2 separate regions of the Homo sapiens genome follow, and region 1 is linked to region 2. Evidence: fine-mapped expression QTL. Tissue or cell type: thyroid. Region 2 holds a variant in brackets; the other region holds the start of a gene. All regions are shown on one strand. Distances are between the middles of the regions.

Region 1 (5,146 bases), 140 kb after region 2:
TTTCCCCTCCCATCAAGAGCAGCTTAAGTTCATGGTATAACAAGTATTAGTACTGGGGGCCAGAGAGGCCCTTTTCAGAAGCCATCAAGACACCCCAAAGGTTAGCCTCCTCTAGCTTCCCATCCTCGCTACCTTCATCCCATCCTAGGACCAGGTCACCATCAGTGTCCCCAGTCTCCCTATCACCAAACTAGGTTTCCCAGAGCCTATTTTAAATGTTAACCTAGGAGGCTACGCATGCATACAAGTCTAGAGTCTGCACTTTAAATGCCCAGAATGGCACACCCACCCTGCCTTTATAACAACACAGAAGGTTCTGGTTTTGCCCTAAAGGGACCCTCGGAAGATCTTTTAGGACAAGATAAAGAACAGGCATACAGAAGTATCCAAGACCTCTAGTATTCTTTGAACGATACCTTAATGTTCTCTCTCCTGCCCCATTTGATGCCGAAGTTGCTATGGTTGTGGCCGATGTCCCGTGGCCAATGCCAGGCTGTCCTGCTGCCTCAGGTTCCACCTGTCAGCAACTGGAAGATCAACCACCTATGTAGCAATCAACCAATGTCATTTTGAGTAAAAGCCCCCAGTTCTCAGACACTTCCAGACTAGCCCAAACATAGAGACCTTTGAGTCAACGTACAGAGTCCAGCTCCCGCCATGCTGCCACAGCAGAGGAGCCCAGGCCTTTGGGATATGCCCAGGGGACTACCAAGACCACCACAAGTGGGCTCCATCTCAGACAACACTGTGGCATCCATCTAAGTCCCCTCTTGGTTTTGTTCGTTCGTTTGTTTGTGAGACAGAGTCTCGCTCTGTCTCCCAGGCTCGAGTACAATGGCTCAGTCTCGGCTCACTGCAACCTCTGCCTCCTGGGTTCACGTGATTCTCTTGTCTTAGTCTCCCGGCAGCTGGGATTACAGGCGTGCACCTCGGCGCCCAGCTAATTTTTGTATTTTTAGTAGAGATGGGGTTTTCGCCATGTTGGCCAGGCTGGTCTCGAACTCCTGACCTTAGGTGATCCACCTGCCTCGGCCTCCCAAAGTGCTGGGATTACAGGCATGAGCCACAGCGCCTGGCCCAAGTCCCCTCTAGTTAAGTGGCAAGCATTTGGATGATGACTTATGTGTCCGGCAAAACCAAAACAGGAAAAGCAAACCTATATGATCAGGCAGGAAAACTGGTTCTATGTTAAAATATGGACCTTACCTCTCAAGGACCAGGCAGGAATGCACACAGCACAAACCCCCATTGCACAGTGGGGATACAGCACCCTCCAGGAGGTGGTTTAATCCACCCCAGAGTGAACGGGGCCTGATAGGAACACTCAGGGCCAACTCTGGGCAAAGCAGCAGGCAGCATTCCTAAAGGGAGGGTTTGGAGGAGACAAAACCTGCCCTTCACAATGAACGTGCCTTAAGGGCTACATGCCCCGGGTCACAAGCTGTGCCAGGAAAGGGTTCTGGGGTAACTGTGGGGTCAGTGGCCCCATGGATGAGGCTCTGCTCACCAGGAAGAGGCCTAGGCGCCCAACAGCCCCTGAGCTTCCTCCCCTGGGGAGGATTTGCCCACAATCCCTGGGGGGCACCTAGGTGGAGAGGGTGCCCCGGCCTAGAAGCAGCCTAGGCGGCCGGTGTGTCCCTATCTGCACGCTCACAAGCACTCATGCCCCAGCCTGGGACACACAGGCCCGTATGCAGTAACAGCGTCTACCCAGCTGCACTCTGCACGCCAAGCACAGGCCGCCCCTGCTGCGGGGCCAAAGGCCTGAAAGCACCGCACCACGCAGCCTCGCCCAGAATAGCTCCCCTCCCGCCCCTCCTGCACAAAGCCCACCCGGACTTAGGGAGAAGGGGGCTCAATACGGGCCCGAAACGAGGCTACAGACCTTCTCAGGAGCAAAGGCAGCGACTGCAGGCAAATGGGGCTGTGGGCCGGGGTAATGATGCGGGACAGGAGAAGCCAAAGGGCAGCAAGGCTGGGGGCGGGGTAGGCGGCGCAGTAGGCTGAGGGAGGGGAAAAGGAAGAAGGGGAGAGGGAGGAGCGATGGCAGCAGGGGTGGAGGCCGAAGGAGACAGGGTCCCGGACAGACTTGTGAAAATGGGAGGATGGGCAGAGGAGACGTAGAAGAGGGGACAGGACAGGACAATGAGAGGCGGAGCGCGGGGAGTGCGATGCGGCCACCGGGGGCTCTGGGCGCTGGGCAGGGGCCAGGATGCCGGGGGTCTGAGCGCAGGCAGCGGGAAGGAGTGGGTTCTGAGGCTCAGCAAGGGGGAGGTGCCGCCCACCACGCCCCCCGCCCCAACGGGAGCGCGCGGAGCCAGCCTCTCACCCTCTCGCCCGCCGGGGCCGCGCAGGCGGGGGAAGCGCTGCTCCTGCGGCCGCCACAGGTGCCAGGTGCCGCGGCCCAAGATGGAGCCAGAGCCGACCTGGCCTGGGCGCGAGACGCCGCCCGCCGCCGTCGGCCCGGCCCGCGGAGCAAGCGCCGGGTACAGGGAGGGGCCAGCGGGGCAGCTGGCACCGGGGCGGCGGGAGGGGCGGCGGGCGGAGACCTCGCTCACCTGGGCCCGTGCCACTCTGGAGCCTGCCACCGCCCCGCCGCGGCCCGGGATCTGCGTCCGCGCGCCCCCACCCCTCCTTCCCGACCCCTCCTCAGGCCGGGTCCCCACTGTCCTCGGTCTTTTCGGCCCCGCCCGCACCACGACCGCCTGTTCTCCAGGCTGCCCAGCGAACCCCCAAGACTCCCACTTCCCCGACGCAACCCCACCGTCCCGGGTGTATAGGCGCAGCTCCCCACGATTCTCCGGCCCCAGACCCAGCCCCTCAAGTCCACCTCCTCGTAGCCCCACCCCCTCGCTCCAGTGCCCCTCGCTCCAGTTCCCCCTCCGCACCACGCCCCGCATTGAGGTCTCCGCGCCGGCGGCTACCCCTTTCCTCTCGCCTTCTCCATCCTAGCTCCGCCTCTCACAATTCTCTGGCTCCAGATCCCGCCCACGAGACCCCGTTTCCTATAGGGCCCTTTCGTCTGGGATACCAGGCCTGGTCTCCACTAGCCTCGGACTTTCCAGCCCCAGGTCCCAAATCCTGGACCCACCGTCCCATCCTCTGAGCTCCACTCTCATGGACCCCAAACCTCACTCCAGTCCTTTGAACTCCATGATCCTGGCCTGGCCTGGCCCCCGGAGCCCTCCATTGCCCCTCAAGAGCCCAGCCTGGTAGACTCCTTCCCTAGGGTTGCATCTCCAGCCCCGCCCCTGAAGACTGGTAATCTACCACCCCTTTCCCTGCCCACGTGCCCCTACCCAGCCCGACTTGAGGCCTTCAGTCTCCCAGCCGCGGACCCCAACAGCGGGCGAGGGCAGTGACCGTGCGGGGATGAGCCACCTCCACTGGAGCCCGCCTTCTTCTCCGCAATTCCCCGCAGCACCACAGCGCCTTCCCGGTCCCGTGACGCCGGGGGCCAGCCCAGGCCCTGGGATCGCCAGGTTCCACACTATGAGGCTGAGGACCTGGGCCTACGGTTCCCTCAATATCCCCCAGTTTCCACAACCGCTGGCCAGCTTCAGGGCGCAGGACAGGCAGCCCCGGCCTCCCGCCACTCGCAATAGATTCCTGCTGTCCACCCAGGGCCACGTGGTATGAGGCACCTGTACTATCTCTGGGCCCCAGTATCACATAATTGGGTCCCAATGTTGGCACTTCTCCGTTGTCCCCTGTGCCGGGACCCCCAACTTGTTGGCCCAGCCCTGTGCTGAGAGGCCTGCGTTCCTCCCTTCCAGTGCCCAGGAGCCAACAGTATCTCTAATTCTCCCCGTTTGGGTAGCAAAGGACCTCAGTCTGCCCAGAGAGACTCAGACTGCCCCAGGTAGCCCTCTCCAGCGAGGTCTGAGAGCAGCTCTCAGATTCTGGCAGATGGCTGCCTTTGGCCAAATGCCCACAGGGGTGTCGACGTCAGACCCCAGGCTTGGGCCTCACCATCACACACTGCCTGGTAGGGGGATCCTGCTTAAAGGAGGCAAATAGGGGATTTGTTTGCCGAGGCCACTACCCACTTCTGCCCCTGTCCAGGAATTAGGACCTCTGCTTCCACATCTTAGGCATCTTACTCATATTCCCTCTTTAGTGAAGTCAGCTGAGCCCCAAGAAGGGATGGACTGCTTGTGGTTACACTGAGAGTTGGTGCCAGATCCAGGCCCCAAACCTGGGGCTCTCAGCTCCCAGGACATCTCAAGAACCAAGAACCTCACTGTGTGTTTCAAGGAAGCCTTCTTGGGGCTGGGTGTCAGGAGATGTCTGCCATGCAATCTACCTGTGAACACAGCTGGCTGGCCCTCACCCCAGGGCATCACTCCTTGTCCAACTGGCCCCCTTCTTCCATTCATGCCCTGGCAAGGAGGCTCCCCTGGCTGTGGCAGCTGTCCAGGGAGAACCCAGCATGGGGAGTCACACTTAAATTCCAATCTCAACTCCCCCACATATTCACTGGCTGTGCAACCCCACACCCAAGCAAAACTGTTCATCTCTCTGGGCATCAGTTTCCTCATCTGCAGAGTGGTAGTAATTATACCTACCTAACAGGGCTGGGGGAAGAGGGTGTTTGTGAACGTGTCCCGTGGAGTGTTATCGCTGCTATCAGTCACTTGATCAAATATTTACTGAGCTCCTCCTGGGTCAGGTCCTGGAGGTACAAGCTGCACTGCATGGGGGAAGGAAGGGATGGATATGTGTAGATTGCTTTGGTAGAGAGCAGCTCAGGCCTGAGGACCACATGGGCCAACTACCATTTGCTGAGACTCTGAACCCTGACAGAAGAGGAATGAGTGTGGGGTGCACTCAGGGGTCCAGCGGGGGCACACTGGGATGTTTGAGGCACCACGTGGACAGGTGGGTTGCACATTACAGGATTGGAGGGGTTTTTCTGTTTGTTTTTGTTCCTTGAGATGGAATTTCACTCTTGTCACCCAGGCTAGAGTGCAATAGCGTGATCTCGACTCACTGCAACCTCCGCCTCCCGGGTTCAAGAGATTCTTCCGCCTCAGCCTCTTGAATAGCTGGGATTACAGGTGCCCATCACCATGCCCAGCTAATTTTTGTATTTTTGCTAGAGGTGGGGTTTCACCATGTTGGCCAGGTCTCGAACTCCTGATCT
Region 2 (5,146 bases):
AGTTTCCTCAGTCCTTCTGCAGGGCGGGGCTTCTCACGGCCTCAAAGTCATGGAGAAGAGTGTGCACAGGACACCTCACTTTAAGCAAAGCCCATAGACCGTATTTGAGAAAAGGAGTTAAATAAAGAGGCAGCCACCAACAAACAAGAGCCCTGTGGTCACTCAGGTCCCATAGACTCTAGAGGTCAAAGGGCCTCCGAGCATTTGAGAATCAGAGAGGGCAAGTAACTTGGCTGATATCACATAGCACGAAGGTGGCAGAGCCAGGATTCTACCTGCTGGCCTCCCAGATGTCTTTCCTGTTGGACCCTGCTTGCTGGCCACTCCTGGTGGGGGTCACTCCACCATTAGTGTGTTCGTCAAACTGACAGTTGTGGTCCAGATCCCTTGCCTCTGGTGTGCCCAGCACCTTAGCTGGCACCTCCCTCAGCAAACCCAGCCTTCGCCATCCTCTCAAGCATACTTCCCAGGGCTGTTTTGTCCATTACGGTCCCAGAATATAAGGCCTTTGGGTTTTTTCAGGGCCTGTGAAAAGGTTTGAAACATGAAAAACATACTGGCAGTTCCAAAATTCTCAAATAAAACTGTAGAAATGCCTTAGGAATTAAATATGTAATAAGATGTGAACACTTCATTACACACCTACAATTAGTCACATGCCTACGATATGTGAATAATGTCAGGTCAGCTAGTGAACTGTTATATAGTAATTGCGCATCACTTATATAGATATACACAAAGTGCACTTACTGACTTGGATGTGTGTGTTCATTGTTTGAAGTGGCGTGGATGGAGGCTCCAAAAGATAAAAGAATGTAGGGGAGGTGACTCTTCAAATGGCCCTCACCCACCCCTTACCCTCAGCTCACCCACCATGAAGCTTCCCCTTCCAAGGAGGACACACCTCCTTTCCTAGAACATTCTTCAGTGCCACAAGCTGCTCAGTCAGCCCTGATTCTGGAGTCTCCAGTGAGCGAGGCCTGGGGTGGCCCCAGCGGGATGAGCCACACTCCCCACAGCACTCAGCCTGGATGTGGCACTGGCTGCACATAGCAAGAGGCAGCTATTGGACACCTGCTCGCCACAAGTTCTGTCTTATCCTCCCAGCAACACCGAGTGAGGGAGGGAGTGTTAACCCACCATTCACCAGGTTTACCAGAGACCAAGCCCAGGCTCTCCCCACTGCACACTTTTAAAAGGGTCCTTTCAGCTTCCCATTAAAGTGGTTTGTTCCTTTGTTCCTCCTCTCCTGTTCTTCCTAAGACATCATCACTGAAATTTAAGCTTATAAATTTAAAATGGAGTAAATCTATAAGGGAAAAGCATTAAAAAAAGAGAGAAAGATGGCTTACTAATGGATGAGAGTCCAACACATTTCTGGAAGACAGGGTTCATGAGAGGCCTAGCACTGTGGCTCCCACCTGTAATCCCAGCACTTTCGGAGGCTGAGGCAGGAGGATCGCTTGAGGACAGGAATTCAAGCCTGCAGTGAGTTACCGTCACACCACCCTACTCCAGCCTAGGCAACAAAGCGAGACCCCATCTCTTAGAAAAGAAAAAAGAAGATTCACAAGAGGGTGTGGCAATATTAGACAGGCTAAGCCCCCAGGTGTACCCAGTGTAACCACAGGGGCCCTTCGGTGGAAGGGAGAAGCAGAAGAGGTCAGAGTGAAGCCACACCTGCTGTGACAATGGAGGGAGAAAGTGGCTGGCCAAGGAACTCCATCAGCTTCTAGAAGCTGGAAAAGGCAAGGAAACAGTCTCCACCCGGAGCCTTATGGGAACACAGCCGCCTCATGGGAACACAGCTGCCCTGTGACACTGATTTTAGCCCCGTGAGGCCCATGCTGGACTTCTGGCCTCCAGAACTGTAAGATTTGTGGTGCTCTAAGCAAATCATAAATTTGTGGAAATTTGTTACAGCAGCAACAGAAAAGTAGCACAGGCAGCCTACGTGCTAATTCTCATCTTACCTGAGGTGGGGTGTACAATACACCCTGCGTTAGTTGGAAAGCTGAAACAATTCTCTAATGCTAATACTGAAATTGTCAGGTCGGTGTAACTGTGACAGTCCGGAAGCAATGGAGGCTTCAGTGAGCAGGACTAGCTGCCTTTCTCACCACCACAGCTTGATCTCTCTCACAACTTCCTCTCCACCTCCACTGACCTCTGGGTTGGTTTTCTCCTGCACGATCTTTCCACGTGTCAGGGGCCTGGAGGCACCCTACAAGAGCTGATTTTACATTTCCTTCCTAGAGGTAATCCCAGAACAAAAGAGAGCAGTTTTATTTATTTTTTTCAAGAGAATTAAATTGTTTATTGATTACACATGATAATGGATGATACACAAGCTTCATTCCCATCTATAATTTAATCTGGTACCATTATTCAATTAGATATGTTACATAGGATGTGCCAACAATTACTTTTATAACCAATAATTCCATGATTTTGCTTGGGTAATCCCTTTTAATGGTGACTGAAATCATGACTGACCGAGTCAGTGGCTAGAAAAGGGGCTTTGCCTTTGTAACTTTTGACGACCATGACTCCGTCGTTAAGATTGTCATTCAGAAATACCATACTGTGAATGACCACAACTGTGAAGTTAGGAAAGCCCTGTCAAAGCAAGAGATGGCTAGTGCTTCATCCAGCCAAAGAGGTCGAAGTGGTTCTGGAAACTTTGGTGGTGGTCGTGGAGGTGGTTTCAGTGGGAATGACAACTTTGGTATTGGAGGAAACTTCAGTGGTCTTGGTGGCTTTGGTGGCAGTCGTGGTGGTGGTGGATATGGTGGCAGTGGGGATGGCTGTAATGGATTTGGTAATGATGGAAGCAATTTTGGAGGTGGTGGAAGCTACAATGATTTTGGCAATTACAACAATGAGTCTTCAAATTTTGGACCCATGAAGGGAGGAAATTTTGGAGGCAGAAGCTCTGGCCCCTGTGGCAATGGAGGCCTATACTTTGCAAAACCATGAAACCAAGGTGGCT[A/G]TTGGCGGTTCCAGCAGCAGCAGTAGCTATGGCAGTGGCAGATTTTAATTAGGAAACAAAGCTTAGCAGGAGAGGAGAGCCAGAGAAATGACAGGGAATCTACAGGTTACGACAGATTTGTGAACTCAGCCAAGCACAGTGGTGGCAGGGCCTAGCTGCTACAAAGAAGACATGTTTTAGACAAATACTCATGTGTATGGGCAAAAAATTCGAGGACTGTATTTGTGACTAACTGTATAACAGGTTATTTTAGTTTCTGTTCTGTGGAAAGTGTAAAGCATTCCAGCTAAGGGTTTTAATATAGGTTTTTTTTTTTTTTGCACCCATGCTGTTGATTGCTAAATGTAATAGTCTGATCATGACGCTGAATAAATGTCTTTTGTTTTAATGTGCTGTGTAAAGTTAGTTTACTCTGAAGCTATCTTGGTAAATTTCCCCAACAGTGTGAAGTTAGAATTCCTTCAGGGTGATGCCAAGTTCTATTTGGAATTTATATACAACCTGCTTGGGTGGAGAAGCCATTGTCTTCAGAAACCTTTGTTGTAGTTGAACTGATAGTTACTGTTGTGACCTGAAGAGAGCAGTTTTAGTAGTGAAAGTCCTGCAGGATTCCTAGTGGTCAAGATTGGGGAGCATGCCTGTATCCCACAGTGGCCAGGGCCCAGGACATATGCCTGGCCCTGTGACTGGCTGGTCATGGGCACAGGCCCCCGGGAGGGAGGGGAGAGTCCTTTCAGAAGAAGGGGAGGGTATGGGAACAGACCCAACCTGACCGCCCCAGACCGTTACTCTCCCTGAGGTGGATGGAATGCAGAATCAAAGTACAATTATATGGTTTAAAGTTTTAAAAGTAAATAACAGAAAACTAAAAATAATTATGCCAAAATGATAAAACTTTGGAAGGATGAAGGGAGGAAGCAGAGGTGCATAATGAGGCCATTTCTTATGTTCCATCACAGGAGGTAGATAAATTTTCTCCAGATGAATAAAAAAATAAGGGTGCCTATACATGCTACTAAGCATTGTGGAGGCACCCACCAGAAGTACTAAAAATGGAAATGTTTACAAGAAGTTGCCTCTGGAGAGTGAGGCCAGGACTGGGGAGGGGAGAGGATAGAAACTGTTTTCTCTCACCATAAACCCTTCTCTCATATTTGATTTGTTCCTATCTGTTTGTTTTACATTGATCACAAGATGTGCTGTGAGAGTGAAAGATTTTTAAATATTTAGATGGATGTCCTGAGCTTTGATATGAAATGCTGATCTGATCAATATCTAATATTATAACTCCATTTGGGATAAAATTTTAGGGTCATGGGGAAAAAACATAATTTGGAATCATCTTCATTCATATGCAAGTTATGCTTTTTAAGAAGGAAACTCCTTGATTCTCATCTGCTGTGCTGAATCTTTAGGAGTTTAACCTGCTATGTCACATGTTTCAATAAAAGAGAGATGTTCCCAGCCTGTTAAACAACAAACTCGCCTGCTTAAATCAAAAAGCAATTATGAATGAATGAATGAACTCTTGTCATCACCCTCTCTCCAGGAGAGAGTAAGGCACATTCATTCTCACAAGAAGACCTGGCCTCACCCCATTTCTCTGTTTCCCAGGCATATGGCTCATCTGCGTCCAGTGTATGTTTGGCCAGGACACTGGACATGTCCCACTTGGCTCCTGCCTCTTGCCCCTGCCAGTCTGGCCTACGGCCGTGGGTCTGAGGGGAGGACTGGGAGCCATCAGAGACAGCAGCTGGCCAGGATCTGATTTGGAGGCCTAGTACTCAATGCAGAGTTACTCTTCAGGCCCCAGCTCCTTCATGCAGGGCTCCTGGGCCACATATTCAGAGTCAGATTCCCCACCCTTCTCCAGAGATTCGGGTCATTGACTTACACCAAAGCTGGAAGCCATAAATCAGGAGACTTCATTGGTCTCATTCCTGAACCCACCCCTGCAACCTTTGGTCATCGCCCCATAGGCCAGCCCTGGCCATCCACCCATCTCCCTGATGCTCCCTCCATCCTGCTCTGGGACTCCTCTCCTTCCTGCTCTTCCGCCACGGCTGACTCTGCCTCTTCGTCACTGTTCCACTGGGAGGCCCATTTCAGAGCAAATGAGCCCTCTGTGTCATCAGCCTTTCTCTCCTCCCCTGG

Evidence for each region. PIP is the estimated chance that this variant, and not a neighbour inherited with it, causes the effect.
Region 1: GPRIN2 starts here. The variant in region 2 is fine-mapped to the expression of GPRIN2 in thyroid (GTEx, PIP 0.98). The same link has a PIP of 0.9 or more in cerebellum.

The regions. Positions count from the first base shown.
Region 1 is chr10:46,554,169-46,559,314 of GRCh38, forward strand. GPRIN2 (G protein regulated inducer of neurite outgrowth 2) reads right to left here and starts at 2,490. Exons shown (of 3, transcript NM_001385282.1): 1 at 2,330-2,490; 2 at 417-527. RefSeq lists enhancers at 1,821-2,526, 3,232-3,937.
Region 2 is chr10:46,413,378-46,418,523 of GRCh38, forward strand. The region is part of intron 1 of LINC00842 (long intergenic non-protein coding RNA 842); the gene reads left to right. It also overlaps the pseudogene HNRNPA1P33. Among named protein-coding and RNA genes, the nearest start is that of LINC00842, 18 kb to the left of the region's middle. The variant A/G (reference allele first, on the strand shown) is at 2,993.